Regions from separate parts of the Homo sapiens genome. Here region 2 is linked to region 1. A link means that fine-mapping ties the variant in region 1 to the expression of a gene that starts in the linked region. Tissue or cell type: breast. Region 1 holds a variant in brackets; the other region holds the start of a gene. All regions are shown on one strand. Distances are from middle to middle.

Region 1 (8,129 bases):
TAGCAATCTTTATTCCATCCACAACTTTAATTCTCCTTTGCCAGGTAACACAACATAGGCTGTGGTTTTGGGGATTAGGATGTGGACATATTTGAGGGTCATTATTCTATTACAGTAGCACTGGGGTGGTGGAGCCCAGGAAATTACCCTTTTAACAGTCATTCCAGCTGATTCTAATGAAAACAATCATGACAACACAATTTGAGAAACACTCCTTTGGTTATTTACGCATAACAGCTATATTTATTCAACTTTGGAATTCAAACAAACACAGAGGTGGTTTAAGACTTTTTAAACAGAAGATTTAGTACAAAGAGAAAAGTAAAATCAGACTCTGATAAACACGGTTATCTACAAAGACCTGTTTACACAGAAAGAAGAGACACTGGCCGATTTCTTGATCTTTCCCTGTTTTATTCTGAAAACAGCCTGAAAACCAAATATTAGGAATAACACCTATAATATAACTTAAGTTATGACATTAAATTTTACTTGGTTTTAAAAGTATACTTGGCTAAAAGTTCTTTATTGCTTGGTCCATTTTATACAGACACACACACACACACACACACACTATATATATATAAAACATTCAAACAACATCCTAATCCTAAAGCACTCTTTTCTTTCTTTTTCCAGTTTTTTTTTTTTTTTTTGAGATGGAGTCTTGCCCTGTCCCAGGCTGTAGTGCAGTGGCTTGATCTCGGCTCACTGCAACCTCTGCCTCCCGGGTTCAAGCTATTCTCCTGCCTCAGCCTCCTGAGTGGCTGGGATTACAGGTACCTGCTACCATACCCAGCTAATTTTTGTATTTTTAGTAGAGATGGGGTTTCACCATGTTGGCCAGGCTGGTCTCAAACTCCTGACCTCATGATCCACCCGCCTCAGCCTTCCAAAGTTCTGGGATTACAGGCGTGAGCCACCCCGCCCGGCCTAAAGCACTCTTTTCTATCTCTCCAAACCAGCAACTAAGCTGAACTATGCTAGGAATAGTCTATATTTCCTTTACTTTTCTTATTGAAAAGATTCAGTTTGCTGAGATTTATATTATATATAAGAATAAATTCAGCTATTTTATTAAGTACTTAAGTCTAGCTTAAAAGTATTTTGAAACATCATCTACTTTTGCATAGCCTTTTTATTGGTTTATTGCTCATAAATCATATTTTCTCAAAGCTCAAGAAAAATTACTTCAAAAAATCTGGATTCTGGGCATGGTGGCTCATGCCTGTAATCCCAGCACTTTGGGAGGCCGAGGCTGGTGGATCACTTGAGGTCAGGAGTTTGAGACCAGCTTGGCCAACATGGTGAAACTCCGTCTCTTCTAAAAATACAACAATTAGGCCAGGCGCGGTGGCTCACACCTATAATCCCAGCACTTTGGGAGGCCGAGTTCGGTGGATCATGACGTCAGGAGTTTGAGACCAGCCTGGCCAAGATGGGGAAACCCCATCTCTACTAAAAATACAAAAATTATCCAGGCGCGATGGCGGGCACCTGTAACCCCACCTACAGGGAGACTGAGGCAGGAGAATCGCTTGAACCTGGGAGGCGGAGGTTGCAGTGAGCCGAGATCACGCCACTGCATTCTAGCCTGAACGACAGAGCAAGACTCTGTCTCAAAAAAACAAAAACAAAAAACACAAATTTAAATTTAGCCAGGCATTGTGGTGGGCACCTGTAATCCCAGCTACTCGGGAGGCTGAGGCAGGAGAATCGCTTGAACCCGGGAGGTGAAGGTTGCAGTGAGCCGAGATTGCGCCACTGCACTCCAACCTGGGTGACAGGGCAAGACTCCGTCTCAAGAAAAAAAAAAAAAAAAAAAAATTGAAAAATGGGTTTCATCAGTTTAGTTCCTCCTGTTCTTTAAATCATAAAATATTTAAACCTAACTGTATGCTTTATTTTTTAAAAGTACTTTTTAGAGCTCAAGTTTAGCAGAGCTATTTACAGTATTATTGTGAGAGAATAGAGAAGAAAGAACTTTAGAGAATGATTAAAATTTTAATCAGTGAACAAATGAATTAAACCAATATTTAGTCAAATCCAACTAACCTGAAATGTTAACTCAATTGAACTCTCATAACAATTCATAAATAAAGTATGATTATCCCTTATTTCTTAGAGAGGAAACAGGCTGTGTTGAGTGATTTCGCCCAGGCTTCATAGCTGTTAAGCAGTGAAGTTAAGTAACTATTCAAACTTGAGTCTCTGACTCAAAGGTAAATGCTCTTCATAGTATAATCAGGCTTCTATATGCTTAACTCATTCGGCTTATTATTATTATTTTTTTTTGGTAGGGAGACACTCACTAACCCACAAGGGTAGAAGGCAGGCATGAGGTGGGGAAAGGTTGACCAGTGTTGGCCCTGGAGGTAGAAGGCAATGTCTTCCAGGGTTGGCTTGATTACATGTTGAACCAAAGAGCTGATTTCTGCAATTTAGTAATCAGTCAAGGGTTAGTATTAGAGTGTGTCTTTGTTTTGTGTTACTGTAACATAATACTGGAAACAATAATTTACAAAGAATAGAGATTTAATTCTCACTATTCTGGAGGCTACGAAGTTCATGATTAAGGCACTGGTATCTAGTGAGGGTCTTCTTTCTGTATCTTAACATCGTAGAAGGCTTAGGGCACAAGAAGGATGAATTTCCTCCATCAAACCCCTTTATAATGGCATTCATCCATTCATAACGGTGAAACCCTTATGACATAAATACTTCCCCCAAAGCCCCACCTCCTAATACTGCTAGATTGGGGATTAAGTTTCCAACATGAATTTAGGGGGATATATTAGACCATAGCAGGGTGTCTAGTCCATAATTTCAAATAATTCAGTATCCTTCAAGTCACTGAAATGAAATGTCCTCTATATGTAGTAATTATTTTTCCATATGAAATCATTTTGGGTAATCAGATAATTCAGTTGTTGAGACATATTTTTATTCTATCTCATCATTGAAGAGCTTGCACTACTCTCAGCTGTACAACATGGAGCCAAGCAGAGGCCAGACCCTGAGAGCATAGAGTGTGAATGTTTTTCTATACCTGATCATAGCCTGGTCAGTAATCATCACCCCACCACAATGAGATCCCTGGACATGGGTCACCAATGCTAGATGCTTTGAAAGACAAAAATCAATTAATATAAGACCTAACTCCTAACAAAAGATACGGATAATCACAAGTCAGATGGCTTTGATTCCTAAATTCATCTCGGGTTGTAATTAAAAGACTTTTAAATTAGCACTAAATTATTCAAATCAAGTAATTAATCTGGTTTTTTAGACTTGAAATTCAATCAGCATTTCCTATGAAATTTAAAATTAAAAACTTTTTTTTTTGAGGTGGAGTCTTGCTCTGTCACCCAGTTGGAGTGCAGTGGCGTGATCTCGGCTCACTGCATGCTCAGCCTCCTGGGTTCACGCCATTCTCCTGCCTCAGCCTCCCAAGTAGCTGGGACTACAAGGCGCCTGCCACCACGCCCAGCTAATTTTATTTTTTGTATTTTTAATAGAGACAGGGTTTCACCGTGTTAGCCAAGATGGTCTCGATCTCCTTACTTCGTGATCCGCCTGCCTGGGCCTCCCAAAGTGCTGGGATTACAGGCATGAGCCACTGCGCCCAGCCAAAAA[C/T]ATTTTTAATAGAAATTTAAATATAACTACCAGTAAAATGTTGTATGACTCAGTTTACTACTCCATGTGATACCACTGAGCAGTGTTTCCAGAAATGTGTCACCACTGGCAATACCTGAGATAACATTAGGAAGCATGAGACATGATTTCATGTTCATGGATATGGCATTAATTAGCATTGAATCACATAACGACAAAGTTATTTCCTCCTAAACAACATTTAATCTTTGTGATTATCTCAAGGAGGACCTCTCAGTTTGGTGTTGTCTCTAAATTTCTCTAATTTTTCATTTTGCCAAGGTAGAGCAGACCCCTGTAAAAAGTTTTCATCAGGAAATATACTACTAGAATATATTACCATGTTTTATTATTTTTACTCTGTCGTGTTTATATTTACTGTTACTTTCCATTCATGGCAAATAATTTGGTTTTTCTATTTGCGGTAGTGATATAAAATTTTTCTTGAGGTGTCTGGAAAGATGGCTGAATAGGAACAGCTCTGCTCTGCAGCTCCCAGCGAGATCAACGCAGAAGGAGATAATTTCTGCATTTCCAACTAAAGTACCCAGCTCATCTCATTGGGACTGGTTAGACAGTGGGTGCAGCCCACAGAAGGCAAGCAGAAGCAGGGTGGGGTGTTGCCTCACCCGGGAAGCGCAAGGGGTCAGGGAACTCCCTCCCCTAGCCAAGGGAAGCTGTGAGGGACTGTGCCGTGAGGAACGGGGCATTCCGGCACAGATACTATGCTTTCCCCACGGTCTTTGCAACCCACAGACCAGGAGATTCCCTTGGGTGCCTGCACCACCAGGGCCCTGGGTTTCAAGCAAAAAACTGGGCAGCCATTTGGGCAGACACTGAGCTAGCAGCAGGAGTTTTTTTCATACCCTAGTAGCCCCTAGAATGCCAGCGAGACAGAACTGTTCACTCCCCTGGAAAGGGGCACTGAAGCCAGGGAGCCAAGTGGTCTAGCTCAGCAGATCCCACCCCCACGGAGCCCAACAAGCTAAGACCCACTGGGTTGAAATTCTCGCTGCCAGCACAGCAGTCTGATGTCCACCTGGAATGCTTGAGCTTGGTGCAGGGAGGGGCGTCTGCCATTACTGAGGCTTGATTAGGCAGTTTCCCCCTCACAGTGTAAACAAAGCTGCTGGGAAGTTTGAACTGGGTGGAGCCCACTGCAGCTCGGCAAAGTTGCTGTAGCAAGAGTGTCTCTCTAGATTCCTCCTCTCTGAGCAGGGCATCTCTGAAACAAAGGCAGCAGCCCCAGTCAGGGACTTATAGATAAAACTCCCATCTCCCTGGGACAGAGCACCTGGGGGAAGGGGCAGCTGTGGGCACAGCTTCAGGACACTTAAACGTTCCTGCCTGCTGGCTCTGAAGAGAGCAGCAGATCTCCCAGCACAGTGCTCAAGTTCTGCTAAGGGACAGACTGCCTCCTCAAGTGGGTCCCTGACCCCTGTGCCTCCGGAGTGGGAGAGACCTTCCAGCAGGGGTCAACAGACATCTGGTGGGTGCCCGTCTGAGACGAAGCTTCCAGAGGAAGGAACAGGCAGCAATCTGTGCTGTTCTGTAGCCTGCGCTGGTGATACCCAGGTAAACAGGGTCTGGAGTGGATCTCCAACAAACTCCAGCAGACCTGCAGCAGAGGGGCCTGACTGTTATAAGGAAAACTAACAAACAGAAAGGAATAGCGTCAACATCAACAAAAAGGACATCCACACAAAAACCCCATCCGAAGGTCACCAGCATCAAAGACCAAAGGTAGATAAATCCATGAAGATGAGGAAAAACCAGTGCAAAAAGGCTGAAAATTCCAAAAACCAGAACACCTTTTCTCCTGCAAAGGATCACAACTCCTTGCCAGCAAGAGAACAAAACTGGATGGAGAATGAGTTTGACGAATTTACAGAAGGAGGCTTCAGAAGGTGGGTAATAACAAACTCCTCTGAGCTAAAGGAGCATGTTCTAACCCAATGCAAGGAAGCTAAAAATGAAAAAAGGCTGGAGGAATTGCTAACTAGAATAACCACTTTAGAGAAGAACATAAATGATCTGATGGAGCTGAAAAACACAGCACGAGACCTTCGTGAAGCATACAGAAGTATCAATAGCTGAATCGATCAAGCAGAAGAAAGGATATCAGAGATTGAAGATCAACTTAATGACATAAAGTGTGACGTCAAGATTAGAGAAAAAAAGAATGAAAAGGAACGAACAAAGCCTCCAAGAAATATGGGACTATGTGAAAAGACCAAACCTATGTTTAATTGATGTACCTGAAAGTGCTGGGGAGAATAGAACCAAGTTTGAAAACACTCTTAGGATATTATCCAGGAGAACTTCCCCAACCTAGCAAGACAGGCCAATATTCAAATCAGTAAATACAGAGAACACCACAAAGATACTCCTCGAGAAGAGCAACCCCAAGACACATAATCATCAGATTCACCAAGGATGAAATGAAGAAAAAAATGTTAAGGGCAGCCAGAGAGAAAGGTCGGTTTACTCACAAAGGGAAGCCCATTAAACTAATAGCAGATTTGTCTGCTGAAACCCTACAAGCCAGAATAGAGTGGGGGGCCAATATTTAACATTCTTAAAGAAAAGAATTTTCAGCCCAGAATTTCATATCCAGCCAAACTAAGCTTCATTAGCAAAGAAGAAATAAAATCCTGAGAGACAAGCAAATGCTGAGCGATTTTGTCACCACCAGGCCTGCCTTACAAGAGCTCCAGAAGGCAGCACTAAACACATAAAGGAAAAACCAGTACCAGCCACTGCAAAAACATAACAAACTATAAAGACCACCGACACTATGAAGAAACTGCATCAACTAACAGGCAAAATAACCAACTAGCATCATAATGACAGGATCAGATTAACACATAACAATATTAACCTTAAATGCAAACGGGCTAAATGCCACAATTAAAAGACACAGACTGGCAAATTGGATAGAGTCAAAATCCATCATTGTGCTGTATTCAGGAGACCCATCTCACGTGCAAAGACACACATAGGCTCAAAATAAAGGGATGGAGGAATATTTACCAAGCAAATGGAAAGGAAAAGAAAAAAAGCAGGGGTTGCAATCCTAGTCTCTCATAAAACAGACTTTAAACCAACAAAGATAAAAAAAGACAAAGAAGGGCATTACATAATGGTAAAGGGATGAATGCAACAAGCAGAGCTAACTATTCTACATATATATGCACCCAATACAGGAGCACCCAGATTCATAAAGCAAGTTCTTAGAGACCTACAAAGAGACTTAGACTCTCACACAATAATAATGGGAGACTTTGACACTCCACTGTCAATATTAGACAGAACAATGAGACAGAAAATTAACAAGAATATTCAGGACTTAAACTCAGCTCTGGACCAAGCAGACCTACAGAACTCAGAACTTGAACTCAGCTTTGGACCAAGCAGACATCTACACAACTCTCCACTTCAAATCAACAGAATATACATTCTTAGCAGCACCACATCGCACTTATTCTAAAATTGACCACATAATTGGAAGTAAAACACTACACACCGAATGCAAAAGAACGGAAATCACAACAGTCTCTCAGACCACAGTGCAATCAAATTAGAACTCAGGATTAAGAAACTTACTCAAAACCGCACAACTACATGGAAACTGAACAACCTGCTCCTGAATGACTACTGGGTAAATAACGAAATTAAGGCAGAAATAAATAAGTTTTTTGAAACCAATGAGAACAAAGACACAATGTACCAGAATCTGTGGGACACAGCTAAAGCAATGTTTGGAGAGAAATGTATAGCACTAAATGCCCACAGGAGAAAGCAGGAAAGATCTAAAGTCAACACCCTAACATCACAATTAAAAGAACTAGAGAAGCAAGAGCAAACAAATTCAAAAGCTACCAGAAGACAAGAAATAACTAAGATCAGAGCAGAACTGAAGGAGATAGAGACATGAAAAACCCTTCAAAAAAATCAATGAATCCAGGACCTGGTTTTTTGAAGAGATTAACAAAATAGATAGATCACTAGCCAGAATAATAAAAAAGAAAAGAAAGAAGAATCAAATAGACACAATAAAAAATGATAAAGAGGATATCACCATTGATCCCACAGAAAAACAACCTACCATCAGAGAATACTATAAACACCTCTATGCAAATAAACTAGAAAATCTAGAAGAAATGGACAAATTCCTGGACACATACACCCTTCCAAGGCTAAACCAGGAAGAAGTCAAATCCCTGAATAGACCAATAATAAATTCTGAAATTGAGGCACAAAAAAATAAAATTTCAGGCCAATATCCCTCATAAAGATCGATGCAAAAATCTTCATTAAAATACTGGCAAACAGAATCCAGCAGCACATCAAAAAGCTTATCCACCACGATCAAGTTGACTTCATCCCTGGGATGCAAGGCTGGTTCAACATATGCAAAATAATAAACATAATCCATCACATAAACAGAACCAATGACAAAAACCACATGATTG
Region 2 (8,129 bases), 49 kb before region 1:
TCACTCCAGCCTGGGCGAAACAGCGAAACTCCATCTCTCAAAAAAAAAAAAAAAAAAAAAAAAAAAAAAAAGAAGTCTACTAAAAACAGTTTTTTTTAACTACAATATCCTAAATATACCTAATTTAGTTATAAACTAGCATAAGACTAGATTCTTTCAGTATGAAAAGTTGCATTGTTTTTCATAACCATTGTACCAAGCATGCTATTAGCATTTAATAAAAATTGAACTATTTTTTTCAAAAGCAGTGCTGTAATATTGTTTTTTTGTTTGTTTGTTTGTTTTGAGACGGGGTTAAGCTCTTATTGCCCAGGCTGGAGTGCAATGGCAGGATCTCGGCTCACTGCAACCTTCGCCTCCCGGGTTCAAGCGATTCTCCTGCCTCAGCCTCCTAAGAAGCTGGGATTACAGGCACCCGCCACCACGCCAGGCTAATTTCGTATTTTTAGTAGAGACGGGGTTTCTCCATCTCGGTCAGGCTGGTCTCAAACTCCGGACTTCAGGTGATCCACCCGCCTCGGCCTCCCGAAGTGCTGGGATTACAGGCGTGAGCCACCGCGCCCAGCAAAATTGGAATTAACACTCCCAGAATACTCCCAGGGACTCTGCATTACAAAGACATTAAAATATGAACCAAACTCTGACGAAAGACTTGAATCCTTTATTGAGGAATATAAAAAGTGGAATACTACATCCCGTTGGCTGGCATAAATATGACTAACTTTACTTTTCCCCTTTAAGTATCAAAAGATGTAGCCTTAAGTCAAAAATGGATTAGGGTAACAGAATCTTTTCCTAATTAGTTTCAGAACTTTCTAAATGCTCCAAAGAAGCTTATCCAAAAAAAAAAAAAAAAAAAAAAAAAAAAAAAAAAAAAGGCCGGGCACCGTGGCTTACGGCTGTAATCCCACCACTTTGGGAGGCTGAGGCCGGCGGATCACCTGAGGTCAGGAGTTCGACATCAGTTTGGCCATATGGCGAAATTTCGTCTCTATTAAAAATACAAAAATTAGCCAGACATGGTGGCATGCGCCTGTAATCCCAGCTACTAGAGAGGCTGAAGCAGGAGAATCTCTTGAACCCGGGAGGCGGAGGTTGCAGTGAGCCGAGATCACGCCACTGCACTCCAGCCTGGGCAACAAGGCGAGACTCCATCTCTGGGGTGGGGGGAAGGAAAAAAAAAAAAACCTCTGAATTGTCCAGAGTGACTGTCAACATATGAACCAAATCTTTTTTTCTTGATATTCAACAAAGTTGTCAAAATTCTTTTTTTTTTTTTTTTGAGACAGAGTCTCGCTCTGTCACCCAGGCTGGAGTGCAGCGGCACGATCTCGGCTCACTGCAACCTCCGCCTCCTGGGTTCAAGCGATTCTTCTGCCTCAGCCTCCCAAGTAGCTAGGATTATAGGCGCGTGCCACCGCGTCCGGCTTATTTTTGTATTTTTAGTAGAGACAGGGTTTCACCAGGTTGGCCAGGTTGGTCTCGAACTCCTGACCTCAGGTGATCCGCCCACCTCAGCCTCTCAAAGTGCTGGGATTACAGGTGTGAGCCACTGCGCCCGGCCGGTTGTTAAAATTCTAAGGGTCAATTAAGGGTTATATGAGAAATCTATAACAAGTTTTGCCTAATAACACTTCCCATCTCAACATTTTCATCAAGGTCCACCTTTAAGAATAAACACCTAAGTTCAATTAAGACAAGTGAGGAGGAGGTATTAACTTACATTTTAAAAAAGTCATTGTCCTGTATATTTTACAGACTGTAAAACTTAATTTTTAAATAGAATACTATACTGGCCACCAACAAAAAATGTTTAAGGGAAGCTCTATTGATTTTGTTTTGCCTCACTGTTGTACTTCCAAAGTCTCCACTATAAAAGCAGTGCGTTAATATTAAGTGGCAAGCCTATGGAAGAAGATACATTGTTGGAATATAGGCTCTTAATCACACCTATAATACACAGGATTCCTTTCCTTTCTCTCTGACCCAAGTTCTCATTAAGTGACCCAAAGACTCTTCTGCATCACTATGCTTTCTCTAATCAGAAGCTGGGCTGTGCACTGAAATAAAAACATTCTAACCAATACATTTTTCAAATTATTACTATAGTACTCGTTTAAACACCTGTATTCAAAGCTTCTCACTAATCATCTAGCTTTATCAAGTAACACACACAAGTTAATATACACTATGACTGCCTTGGTAGCCGCAGTTTGACTAAATTCTGGGACACCACCTCAACTTGGAAGGGACAGAACTATATCCGGTTCTCATTAGATACACATTTTCTCATGCTTTCCATCTTAAAGACTTTACACTTTCCCAGAGGAGCAATAAATGTAGGAAGACGCCAGGTAGTATGCCTGTAAGGAAGATAAGTGATCAGATTAAATTCCTACCCAAGAAACCTGAAACTTCAAAAACTTTTCCTAACAAACCACAGATGAAAAGGACAAAGTATGATTTACCCCTTCATTTCCACTTCTTTTCTGGAGCCAGCTTCCCAAATTCCTGAACAGCAGTCTTAACTTACTGGTTAGTTGGAGGAGCGGTCAACGGTATGGCCACCTCTTCCTCCTCGTATTCTGGTCCATCCAGAGAGTCACCTTCGTCCACTGTCCCGAGGCCCGCCCCCAAAGGGGGCAGGTAAGGGGGAGGGGGCAGAGGGGGAAAACCGCCGCCTGGCCCGAGAGTCTCAGCAAGCAACGAAGTGGGCAGTTTGGTGAGAGCCATGTCTCCACTAGGTCCAGCAACAGCAGCACCGGCCACGCCAGCAGCAGCACCAGCTACGCCAGCAGCAGTACCTCCCCCTGTCAGTCCAGCTCCCCCCAGTGCCCCTGCCACAGACCCGGCTCCTAGGAACTCTGACCCCAAAGCGGCTCCGCCACCCAGAGTTCCAGCCACTCCGGTCTCCACCAGCCCAGGATAGGGGGCGGCTGCCACAGGCAGGGCCGCGGGTATCTTCACCCGACACACTGCGGGATAGGCACTGGAGCCCGCTGCCGCGCCGCCTCCTCCAGCTCCGGCTGTTACCGGGCCGCCCTCCTCACTGCCGGCCTCGGCCGCCATCATGTTGAAGCCCGCTCTACTCTGCCCTACCCTGCCCGCCCGGGAGCCCCAGGGGCCACCAGGCCCGGGCTCCGAGCAGCCCCACCCAGACGCGTCTCCCCTTCAGCTCCCCAGGCTGAGGAAACAACAACAAAAGGAGAGAGCCCGCCGCCGCGCCCCCTCCTAGGGCCACAGCCCAGGCTCCCCAGCTGCCTGGGTTACGGGAAGCCAAGTGGGCAAAAAACCCAACGCCTGCACAAACGCCACCCAAACCTCACCGCACACACCCACACTCACGCACACAAACACATGTACAGAAGCGAAAACTTCCTCGCTGCACTAAAGAGGAAAGGAAGCACAGGGAAAGAGGCTGAGGCTGCTACCGCTCCTTCAGCCGCCACCACCGCTTCTTCACCACCCCAGTTCCGGCCACCCACACCGCAGCCACCGCCGGTGCCGCTGCTGAGGCTGGGGCCACTGCAGCCGCTTCATCCTCCACCAGGCAGATGAGAGGGGTGGGGGGGCAAGAGAAAGGGGGGCGGGGTAACGAGGAAATCGACTGAACTGCTCACTACCTGGAGCTCTCAGTGAGTGAAACGGGAGAGAGAGAAAGGAAGGCGGGGCAGGGGAGGAGGGACGGAGGGAAGGAAGGGCGGAGAAGGGAGAGGGCAGCTTGTGCGCAGGCGCGTTCCCGGAGCGGGGGCGGGGGGCCGGGCCGGGAGGAAAAGGAAGAGTCCAGAGGGAAGGAAGCGGCGGGGACGCGCGGTGCGTGGTCGCGCTTGCTGTCCTCCTCCGGTTCCAAGCGTGTGGCGGCGCGGCCGCATCTCCTGTTGGCGTGGCCGGCGGCGCGCGCCTGTCTCCCGGGGCTTTGTTTGATGGGCGGGAGAAGAGGGAAGGGTACCTGAGCACGCGGGTGCTTGGCGCTGTTAAAGCCGGAGAGACCAGAGGGGGACCAGGAGGCGGTGGAGAGGAAGGAGGGGGAAAGGGAAAGGAAAATGCCCAGAAACTAGTTCCGTACTTCCTGACCAGTGGAAAAAACAGCCTTAACCAGCAGCGCAGAAACCGGGCAGGGGTCAGGTAGCTTTGAAGATCGGGGCAGTACTATTAATGTTTTCTTTTTCGTTGCATGCTATAAATCACTATGACTATCTCACACACACACAGTTAAAATAGATTCTGAAACTCCAAAACGAAATAAAGGGCACCATATGAGAAGGGTGAAGAATTTGAGTAGAAATAGTGGTTATGAAGTAAGATTTCTACCAGTATTTGCATACGTTTTTCTTTATCAACTGTCTCATATACTTACCTATGCCATTATAAGTCTGTTGGATACTGATGAAGAGGAGGAGGTGCCACAGAAAACACTAATCAATGCACTTTTGTCCTGGTTTGTGTGCAAAAGACTGCAGGACGTGATCCACAATGCAAGCACCTTCAACAAGTCAAATGTCAAGAATGTCCCAGAATGCTAGTTATAATTATATATCGTTTCAAAAGTAGCAATAAACTGAAAACTCATTTTTAATACAATTAAGGAGAAGGGTGTTATTTTGTCTTTTACACTAAAATGTATACAAACTATGCATTCATGTAGAGGGAGCTTCCCATGGTTTGAAATTAACAATATTGTTAAATTCTCCCAGGAGTGATCCCACATTAAATACCATTGGATATTGATCTTTGAGATCAATATTTTCTGTGCTAAGGATGATCAAACTAACACTCAGGATGGCAAGTGGCTGTGATAGAAACCCAGGAAAAAGAGAAAAGACCACTAAAAGACGTGACAAGATACAGGCAATGCATTGCCTTTGTAAGTTTGCACAGGCCTATTTACCTAGTCAATGACAACAATCCAACTTGATTAGGAGTAGTCCTGGGGCCTCCATTACGCATATCTCTTAGCAGTGTGCTACCTGGGAGAAGGAAGATGGACCAGTCACAGGAGCTAGAGTTCTCAAAGTGAATTCAGGCCGCAACATCCTAGGAATTCAGAAATGCCACCTCAGACCTTCTGAATCAGAAAATATGCAGCGATCCATTTTAACAAACCCTCCAAGTGATTGTTTGCACACTTAAGTTTGAGAACCACTATATTAATGTATAGTATACTAATCAAGAAGGAGGTATGCAATACCTAAAAACGGTTCTGAAAGAAATAATAAATGTCATTCATTAGGTGGGTAGGTAAAATAGGCGGGTTTTGAGTTGCCAAGCTCTGTGCTGTTCTAGAAATGAGAATGAAGTAGTTCCATAATACTTAATAATGAAGTACTACTTATGGTGGCCTCCCTGAGAACAGTTTTCTTTTAAACTTAGACCCTCAGTTAGACAAGACTATCAAAATACCTACTCTACTTACTGTCTGCTGTGTGAACACCAAGTGCAACAATCCCAACAAATCTTAATATAGCCTGTGCTTGAAAACCTCCAGTGTGTTAGCATCCCAATCCTCCAACATTCCTGTCCCAGTCACCACTGTCAGCCCTTGAATGCAGGACATTGAACTGGCAGGTTATCACCGGCTCTTGGTTATCACTGATTTCTAAATGTTCACACACCCTCTGTATGTTGCCTGGGAGTCCAGGTGAGGCTCACTACTCTTACTGCAGAATTACCTCCTCCTTTTTGACAATTCTTTAGCACTTGTAAAGGTCAATATTTAATGCAGTCTAACACCTATCAAATGCTCAATTAAATGTTTTCTAGACTTTTAGGTGTATGTACCTACAAAACTGTACTGCAAATACAACCTGTGGTCTATTCTACTGCCTAGCCCAGTCCTAGGCAACCTCAGTATGCTACTTTGAACAGATCTTCATCCTTTTAACAAATACCAAATTTGATCAGCTCCCATCTTTGGAAATCAATTTCTTAACCAGTAGGAAATAACTACTATGTCTATTTGTAAATCAGCCTTATACCAATATCTTACCTAGTTTTTGTTTAGCCTTAGAGTTAGCCCTGTTCTTTTCCTCCAAAGAAATTGCCACATATTTTTATGAGGTATTTTCAGATATTTAATATATTCCTATTATTGGATAGATCTAGGCTCTAATCTTTACTATTGCTTGTGTACTTTCTGAATCTCAAATACGTTGTCTATCTTTATTTTCATTTTTTCCAAAAGGATTTAATGTTTCTACTTAATTTTTGTCCATTGCCTTTCTTTTCTACCCACCTTAACTTTCTGCCCAGTTAACAAAGGGAAGTAAACTATCTTAATTAAATTCACAGATATTAAACAGGGAGGTATTGAAAAACAGAATAGTACACAAAAGAAAGAAAATTCAAAATATATTTTACCTTTAGTAAAATAAGCTATTATATCTGTGATTTTAGAAAAGTTACTCTGGATCTTGAAACATAGTATTTAATGAAGACTAAATAATAAAAAGTGCTGGACAAAAACTTGTGTATGAAAAGAAACTGAAAATTTAAGAAATGAAGTTGGCTCATTCTGGTTTCATTGGCAACTGAAATATGAATGTGGCCGGGTGCGGTGGCTCACGCCTGTAATCCTAGCACTTTGGAAGGCCGAGGCGGGCAGATCACAAGGTCAGGAGATCGAGACAATCCTGGCTAACACTCCAGCCTGGGTGACAGAGCAAGACTCTGTCTCAAAAAAAAAAAAAAGAAAAAGAAATATGAATGTACTACGTTCCAAAATATTTTATAGTTTTGATATCTTGAGTATGTGGAAAGGTAATTCTAACTCAGTAACATAACTGTAATTTTAGAGGACCTTAGAGCATAGGTAAGAATAGTTTCTGATGGGAGGACTAACCAAGAAGTAATAAAGAGCTTACTGCTGTGTTTGAAGAATGCCAAATTGTGTTCCATGCCCTAGTACATATTGAGTTACACAAATAGCCTTCCAAATTTACCTAAATAGTATCAAAAGGTTTCATTGACCCAATAATTTTGAAAGAAAGCCTTTACTTCTAACCCTAATGTCCCCACTGCATTTATTGACTTTATCTTAAAACCCTCCAGAGCACAAATTTTTTTATTACAAAGATCTTATGAGAAAATAACATCGAGGAGATACAGGTTAAAGGAAATACTTTGATGAAAAGGCAAATAACTCTGCAGAGATTACAATATGTGGTATAATAACTAAGATTTATGAAAATTATAAATACCATAGAGAAATTGAAGAACTGTGTGATGATCTCTGAGGCTGTAAAATAAATTACAAGGTAAATTATCCAGAGCTCTCTCAAAACATTCAAACCAATATATGAGTAAAGAAGATTAGAACAGTTAGATCTAAATATCTCTTAAAATATAAAATAATAGAAAAATATATTTTTTTTTTTTACTTTATTCCTATTTTGTCTTTATATTGCAGATACTTCATTATTTTTTGTCAGAACCTTTCCTCCTTCATGATTTCTAGTCTCTTTTTCTTTACCTATTATTTTACTCTGACCAGGCACATTTATGTATTTTCCTTTCTTTGCCTGGCTCCTATATATGATAGTACCTCATGGTAGAAGTAAAGGAGAAAAGGGAACGGAATGGTTTCAAGGCAAAGAATGTGGGAGAGTCGGGTGGGTAGGACTTTGCCATATTTCCCTCATTATTACACTCCCATTTTTCACAGATAATATTTTTTGAATATGCCAGCAACAATTTAAATAGCACCTGAAGCACAGTCATGAAATCCAACTAAGCTTTGGTCTTTTCACCTCAAGAATCCTGCAGTCTCTAATTCAAGTTACATTCTTTGGTCTACCTGAGAGTCTTCCAGGAATGCTTTCACTTGCAAATTCAGTTAGTATGGCAATACACACCGCTCTTTAAAGTAACTATACAATGAAAGGGCTAAGTGGAGCCTTGAGTCAGATAATTATCATAAATAAGGTGAGAGCTTTAACTACTGCAAATGCACTGTAAGTAGTGTAACTTTACTCAACTAAAAACAGCTTTCTATTTCTAACTATAATTATTTCTCAATCCGCGTGCTCTTTTGAAGACTTTTCAACTTCACTTGTTATCTTACTAGAACTCTTATTTTTCAACTTCCTATTCACTGTTTATCGAATAGTTTTTAAAAAGCAATGAAATATGAC

What was found. PIP is the estimated chance that this variant, and not a neighbour inherited with it, causes the effect.
Region 2: RASA1 starts here. The variant in region 1 is fine-mapped to the expression of RASA1 in breast (GTEx, PIP 0.90).

What each region holds. Positions count from the first base shown.
Region 1 is chr5:87,214,304-87,222,432 of GRCh38, reverse strand. It overlaps LINC01949 (long intergenic non-protein coding RNA 1949), which reads left to right. Exons shown (of 3, transcript NR_130914.1): 3 at 4,104-6,698. All of the region lies in intron 2 of LOC101929380 (a long non-coding RNA gene), which reads right to left. Among named protein-coding and RNA genes, the nearest start is that of LINC01949, 21 kb to the left of the region's middle. The variant C/T (reference allele first, on the strand shown) is at 3,637.
Region 2 is chr5:87,263,395-87,271,523 of GRCh38, reverse strand. It overlaps RASA1 (RAS p21 protein activator 1), which reads right to left and starts at 3,641. Exons shown (of 25, transcript NM_002890.3): 1 at 2,534-3,641. The coding sequence starts at 3,072. RefSeq lists enhancers at 2,870-2,919, 2,677-3,564, 3,618-3,912 and silencers at 3,100-3,279, 3,620-3,869.